Homo sapiens: one gene and its partner. The protein of the gene in region 2 purifies or fractionates together with the protein of the main gene of each other region. This does not show direct contact. Each region holds a gene or a part of one and is shown on either strand. Other genes may lie near its edges.

What was found. The genes of interacting proteins can lie anywhere in the genome.
Region 1: the proteins of ICOS (region 2) and GAK purify together in Homo sapiens (co-immunoprecipitation; one study listed by IntAct). This does not show direct contact.

Annotation. Positions count from the first base shown.
Region 1 is NC_000004.12:887,309-890,962, reverse strand, and holds part of GAK (cyclin-G-associated kinase), read left to right. Parts: intron 1-340; coding exon 341-431; intron 432-1,992; coding exon 1,993-2,116; intron 2,117-3,654. UniProt on the Homo sapiens protein: Associates with cyclin G and CDK5. Seems to act as an auxilin homolog that is involved in the uncoating of clathrin-coated vesicles by Hsc70 in non-neuronal cells. Expression oscillates slightly during the cell cycle, peaking at G1.
Region 2 is NC_000002.12:203,935,216-203,938,969, reverse strand, and holds the start of ICOS (inducible T-cell costimulator precursor), read right to left. Parts: upstream 2,208-3,754; 5' UTR 2,156-2,207; coding exon 2,098-2,155; intron 2,070-2,097; exon of another isoform or gene 1-2,069. UniProt on the Homo sapiens protein: Stimulatory receptor expressed in activated or antigen-experienced T-cells that plays an important role in the immune response.

The sequences.
Region 1 (3,654 bases), on a different chromosome or scaffold from region 2:
AAAAAAAAAAAAAAAATGTTGGTTGGACAGACTGGGAAGAGAGAGAAAAGGAAAAGGAACAGAAGCTGTAGCCCAAGAGTCTGAAAAGCTGGGCTGGAGTGCTGAGCACCTGCAACAGCCCCAAGCGAGGCAGGCCGCGGGGTGAGGGGATGAGGGCTGCGTGCGTTTGTTGAGTTCCAGCTGATGCTTCAGCCTGTGGGAAGTTCCTCCCTTGCACTGTGTCATAGATCAGGGGGCAGAAGGATGGGCTCTGAGGGCACCCATACCGTACCTCTGCCCGACGTGGGCAGGCGTGAGTTGTCAGTTTAGAGAACTGACCTCTGCATTTTCATTGTCACAGCTCCTGGAGCAGAATGGAGGCTACGGGAGCGCCACACTGTCCCGAGGGCCACCCCCTCCCGTGGGCCCCGCTGGCAGTGGCTACAGTGGAGGTGAGTGCCCTGTCCTGTGCCCGCCACCTGTCCCTCGCTCCTGCTGCACCCCGGGCACCCGCAGCACATTGGGATGGAGTCTGGGGTCCTTCTCTCCCGGGGCCTCCTCTCCCACCAGAGATGACTGTGAGGTCAGGGTCCCTGAGCACACCCTCAGGTTCGGCAGTTCCCTGGGGCTCACAGAGCTCAGCAAAGCTGGTGTCTTGGTGCAGTTCAGGAGGGGGTCAGGATTCGGACTAAAGCCAGCCAAGGGAAGAGGCTCCAGGGCAGGGCCCAGGAGACCGGGCCCGAGTGACCAGGCGGCCTCGCTCAGGGGTTATGTGGGAGGCAGCCTGCGCCGTGGCCAAGACCCCAGCATAGATCACATTGTCGTGTCTGGCACAGCCCAAGGCCCCAGGGAAACAGACACCCCTTTTGGGGCTGGAGGGGGCATCCCAGGTTCCTTCCCAGGAGCTGGGAATGAAGGGCCAGGCCTGCTGTGGGCAAGGTGAACCATTTACTACAGTAGCGACCCTGAGGCCAGGGGGCAGGAGCAGGCATTGGACAGTGGAGGGCGGTGGGGGAAGACAGTTCTGCCGCTAGTGTGAGGTGGCCCCTTCTGCCGCATGAGGAGTGGGCACCTGTGATGGGCCTGGGTGTCCCTGGAGGGCCCTCAGCTGGTGAGGAGTGGAGAGGGCCCTGGAGACAGACGCTGCATGCTCTTGGAACTCCGTGCCGGGAGTGTTCCAGAAGGTTCCGGGTGAGCCGTCGAGGACATGGCCCTGACAGGCAGCGGCTGGGTCTGCAGCTCTGCATGGCGCTGACCCCTCCCGACCTCGCCCCGCATCCCCACTGCGGTGTGGGAGGTTTCACCTGGGTCCTTCACCTCCGCTTCCCAGGGAGGAGCTCAGCTCCATGTCTGGGGCACCCCGGTCCGTGCAGTGTGGGTCCCACACATGCAGGTGTAGTGGCTGGCTGGGTCTCTGCTGGCTGGAGGAAGGGTGAGTCCTCGAGCTGCTGGGTTCTGCAGTGCCCCCATCTGCTCGGTGCTGCCTGGGCCTCGGTCTCCTGTCTGCATGAGGGACTTTGGCCAGGTGTTTTTTTTTTAACACCACTTGTGCCACCAAAGCCGCCTGTGAAGACCTCACTCGCAGGACCCACCAGGCCAGGGGCCACCACTCTGCCTTCACGTCCAGGGTCATGGTGGCCTGAAGCTGTGGCCGTGAGGCCGGACTATCCCCACAGACAGAGTCCCAGCCCCAGCTGTGCTGAGGCGGCCACATAGCCCTTCCGCACCCAGATTGACCATTTCCTGGGTCTCTGGAAAGGCTGAGGACAGGGTAGACCTGCCAGTGCTGAGGCCTGGCTTCCCGCTGGGTACGTGTGGGTCAGGGGCCTGGCCATACCACCCACTCCCTGCTCCTGCTGCCTGGGCCCAGCCAGCAACCTGCACCTGGGGAGGTGGGACCGAGCGCCTGGGGAGGTGGGACCGAGCGCCTGGGGCCTGGGCCCAGCCAGCAACCCGCACCTGGGGAGGTGGGACCGAGCACCTGGGGCCTGCTGAGACTGTGTCTCCCTGCAGGCCTGGCGCTGGCGGAGTACGACCAGCCGTATGGCGGCTTCCTGGACATTCTGCGGGGTGGGACAGAGCGGCTCTTCACCAACCTCAAGGACACCTCCTCCAAGGTCATCCAGTCCGTCGCTAAGTGAGTGTGAGGCTCCAGAGCCCTGGACCTGCCGCACGCTCGTTCCAGGCTGCAGCCCCGGCCCTTGCTTCCTGGCTGCGGTGGAACAGCTGGTCATCAGGCCCCACAGGGGCCCCTGAGGCAGTGGGACAGCATCACCCGCTTCTCCCAGGGAGTCGGAATGAGCCCAGCATCCCACAGAGCCAGGCAGATCCCTTTCCTTTCATCGCCTGGGGGGCAAGGCCCTGCTGAGGAGATGCCTGGGCCCTCCCCTCCCTTGCTGCAATGTCGCCCCTCACTCTGGGGCGTTCCTGGCTTGTTCCCGGGACTCTGTAAATTGGGTGAAACCTCGGTGGTGGCGCCTCACTGAGCCAGTCCTTGAGTTAAAGCCCTAGTTACTCAGACTTAGACCAGGTGAGTCCCAGCCTGTGGTGGGAGAAAGTCTCCCTCTGGGTGGGCTGTCCAAGGGCGCGTCTGTGCGGGGGTGGCCCCGACATCGGCCCACAGGCCCGGCAGCCTCTGCTCACGGAACACTGGGAATGTTCCAGAGTGCGGCCCCTCTGCGTTGCGGGGTCCATGCGCTGGCTCTTCTGAGGAGCTGAACGCCCAGGAGCACGCTGGCTGCTCATCTGGCCCTGCGGTCGCACCAGCTCAAGGGCGTCGGCTATGTCAGGAAACAGCCTAGGAGCTGGGCTGGACTGGTGCCCGTGATGCAGGAACTGCGGCCCCTGGTGGGCCCACGTTCCTTCCACAGCTGGCGACACCTTCGGGCTTTTTCTTATGTTTTTTGTTCTGTGCTGTGATCACTGTTTTGTGTCCCCAGCACCAGGTAGACGTGTGTGCACTTGTGCCTGCATGTACCGCAGCGTCTGCACATGTGAGCGTGGGTGCATGTGTCTTTGAGCATGTGTGCATGTGAGGGAATGGGTGTGTTAACATACATATGTGAACATGTGTGCATGTGTGTGTAAATGCTGGTGTGAGTATGTGCATAGGCGTGTGTGATTGCTGGTATGAGCATGTGTGCTGGTGCTTGTGAGTCCTTGTGCTTGTGAATCCTTGTGTGAGCTGAGTGCTCGTATTGTGTGCAGGCACGTGTATGAGCACATGTGCATGTTGGAGCATGTATGCGTGTGTGCATGTGTATGCATGTGTAGGAGTGCTTGTGAGTGCGCGTGAGCTGTGTGCATGTGTACACGTGTGCGAGTGCCTGTGAGTGCACGTGAACTGCATGCATGTGTACGCATGCGCGCGAGTGCCTGTATGAGCCGCGTGCATGTGTACGCATGAGTAGGAGTGCCTGTGAGTGTGCGTGAGCTGCGTGCATGTGTACACACGCATGCAAGTGTGTGTGAGCCACATGCATGTGTACGCATGCACACAAGTGCCTGTGTGCGTGAGCTGCGTGCATGTGTATGCATGTGTGCGAGTGCCTGTGAGTGCATGTGAGCCGCATGCATGTGTGCACATGCGCGCGAGTGCCTGTGCCTGAGCTGTGTGCACATGTATGCATGCGTAGGAGTGCCTGTGAGTGAGCATGAGCCGCGTGCATGTGTACA
Region 2 (3,754 bases):
TGGCAGTTTCTGGATACATGCATTGTGGAGATATTTTAAATAGGATCATTGCTAGCAGATTTATTGTTACCATTTAGCCACTCGTGCCTCAGGTTTGCCACATGCCAAACAGCATGCCACATCTCATGGCTTTCTTTATAATGAGAGTGAACATTGGTTGTATTCATTTAGAATCTACGATGAATATTGTTCCAGAATACAAATTATTCGTCAGCTTAATCTGGAAACTTAAAACAATCCTACCTAAGGCTGGATCTCACCTTCCACAGAATTGACACCGATGCTACTTTAATTCTCCTGAGCATAATACCACAACCAGAACTGCCCAAATTGGTTTGGCCTAGTTGAATGATTTTTATCAATACAAACAAACCCTTCCACGAATGGTACCAACGTTCTTGGAAGAATATCCAAAATCTGGAACATAGACTATATGGTCTGAATGGTCTGGCCTCTACTTTCCTTTCCAGCCTCACCTTGGACCAACTTGGACCAGTTGGTCATCTTGGACCAAGCTCAGCCTCTTCCCTCTTTGTGCTCAGGCACATCTGTCTGCTTTCTTCTAGTTCCCTAACCTTACCTCATTCCTTCCTGCCACAGGCTCTTTGCACTTGTTCCTTCCATGGTATGGAACGTTCTTCCCTACCTTCATACCGTTCTCCCCATTGATTGCTACCTTGTCCTTGAAATCTCCGCTCAAGTGCCACTTGCACAGGAAAGACTTCAATGAACCCTGCTCCTCAGCTACACCTCCACACCCACCCAGTCTAGTCAAGCTCCTTGTTACATTCCCTCATATAATTGAGTTTTGCCTGTAATTATCATTAATCAATGGGATTATTTGATTAATATATCTCTCTCTACCATGCAGTTACCTTCCAAAGAACAGGGGTTGACCTGGTTTTGCTCATCCTTGTACATACACCATCTGGCACAGTACCTGCTACCAGGCAGGTGCTCAATGCTACATGAGTAAATGGATGAATGAAGAATGAATATAAATTCCAAAGCTGCTCATGTCATTCATGCCGCTAAAGGACTTCATGAGATTCTAGAAAAGGCATAAACCAGCAAGTAGCCCAAAACTGTCCTTGTGCTCATTCTACATTCCTCAATCCTCTTAACTGCACTTAACTCACTTTGAGCCAGCACAAGATGAAACATTTGATCAATTTGATTTCATTTTTTTTTCATTTTTTGTAAGAACAGTAAGGTCTATTTTTTTGCCACTGAAAAAATGTATCCCTAGATAGGATCATACCTACTAAAAGTTCTGCCTTCACTTTTAGTTTATTTGATTATTTAAGTTATTTAATATTACTTAACTTTCCTTTTTTCAACCTCAAGAATAGGGCTCAGTGTGAAAGAGAAAACAAAAGTAGTACAAATTATATACAGTAAAAAGCAGCAGAAACACGTGTATTAACTTACATTGTATGTAGCATTATTTAAATTGTCCATATAGAGTCTGCTATATGCCATTCAAGAGAAGGAATCAGGGACTCCAGAATGATCTTTTTTGTAAGGTCTACAGGGGCTAGGAAGTATTTTTACATTATCCTTTCCTCCTTGGCTTTTTAGGGTGAACTCTGATACTTAGTGTCAATAAAAACTCTATGGTGCCCTGGACATTTCAGATAACAGATCATCCAGGTAAGATTAAAATCAAAATCCTTCTTTTCAAAGACTTCCCATTTTATTTTCTACCACAGAAAGAATTCCCAGTCCAAATGCCAGAGCTATTTAATTTTCATTCTGTTGACACAAGTCATTTTGCCTTTCATCTTTCTCTAAGAACAGTAAGCCACTCTGCTAGTTTATCCACTGACAGGTAACTCCAAGCAGGTAATTTAAAAATTTAATGGTCTGATGAAACATGTTTTTCATCTCAAGACACAGTATCAAAGGCAGCAATGCAAACTCAATGCCATCCACAGTGACATGAGTGACATGGTGCCCTTGGCCATATCCTGAAACTATTCCTACTTTCAAAAACCAAAACCACTGTCTTTTGGGTGCGTAATTTTTCTACCTTTGCTTTTTCTTAATGTTTACTTGAATTATAACTTAATAAGAAATATTCAATACACCACTTACCTGTTAAAACTTTAATGCGCAAGCAGAAGAGAAAGAAATACCAGAGGCCTGACTTCATGTTTGCCAGAAACAGTTAACAGTCCTCGCGTTCAGTGTTCAAAGCTGACAGTGAATTCAGGCTCTCGGTTGTTTTCTATTTGCTGGAAAGGAAGTGGGTTTTCTGGGAGTTTATGTAGTGTCACGCTTACCATCAAATCAAGGGGGTGTTTCTTCTTTGATGCCAATGGCTATATGAAAGGCATTATTGCTTATGACATGAGTTAAACAATGCATGGATTATTGATGATTTTGAAGACAGAGGAAAACATTACCCTTATTCTGGTTCCTATAAAACAAGTTAAAGAGATTATGCCTGTATTTTTCAGAACCACCCTACTTCTCTGAATCAATAGTTATGGGGGTTAACAGGACCTAAAAATACTCACATGATGAATAAAACATATATTTTGACACATTTCTATCTTATGCTAGGTGCTCCAGAGATAAGAAAGCCTTTGAAATAGGACAAGAAACAAACAAAATTATTATAGAAATTGAAGTGAAAAGATCTGAAAGAAGAGCATCATAGGAATCTGAGAAATGATATTTATGTGGCATTCATTGTAGATTGCAATGTTTCAAATGATGGGGTCAGTTTTAAACTAACTTAAACCCTGCTCCTCATATTACAGCAGAGTCTGTAGGAACCAGGGATTCCTCACCTACGGCTCAGTGAGACCAAGAATGTTTAAAAGCCTGCCGTGGTCTCCCCATCCCTGCAGGGAGGTAAAGTAGACAATAACAACAATAACAATAATAATTACATAGATAATTATATGTATATGTACTTAAATGTTTTATATGAAATAATATATCTTAATGCAAAATGTAAAAAATTAAATGTAATATATTTTATATATAAAATATACCTATTTTTATATATGAATATAGCTAATATTACATTTATATTATGTTTTATATGCATGTAAATGGTTACTGTTTGTATATATATTTACATTATAACTATAGTTTATACATACATTAACTCATTTAATCTTCTTAATCATCCCAATGGTGACCACTAATCTCCCATTTTACAGATGAGGAAAACTGAGGCACAGACAGGTAACGAACCTGGCCCAAGTCATATAGTAAGTGTCAGTGCTATGATTTAGAGAGTCTGGCTCCAGAGTCCTCACTCTTAACCGAAGCAGGTAGAACCACCAATACCAAGGCCTGCTGATCCCTCCATCCAGAAGTCTGAACGCGCTTCCAAGATGCTAGATCCAGGCTGGACTTCCCTTAGCCTGCAGAAATGACATTTAGATGAGAAGCTGAAATCAGCTGGCCAGGGAAACCAAGGTGTGAGTCCAAAAGGTCCAGGCTCTGAAACAGATTCCAGGTTTGGGGCTTTAGGCCAGCCACTAGGAATGCCAGACCACAGCCAAGGGGTCTGCAAGGTAAGGAGGAGGCTGATCCTGCAGGGATCCCCCTAGCTGCTGAAGCTTCCCCTAGCTACCTTCTGTAGGGCTCCTGGGTCTCAGCAGTGGGTGTGAAGGAAGCTGTTTGAGGGACTGAGCTAGCCTGAGAAGTAGAGCCTGGGCTGCCAGGACCCCTGGGACCTTGCTACCCCAATCTCCTCCCTTTTCACTGTACTCCCCGTAGCATCATGAGGAAA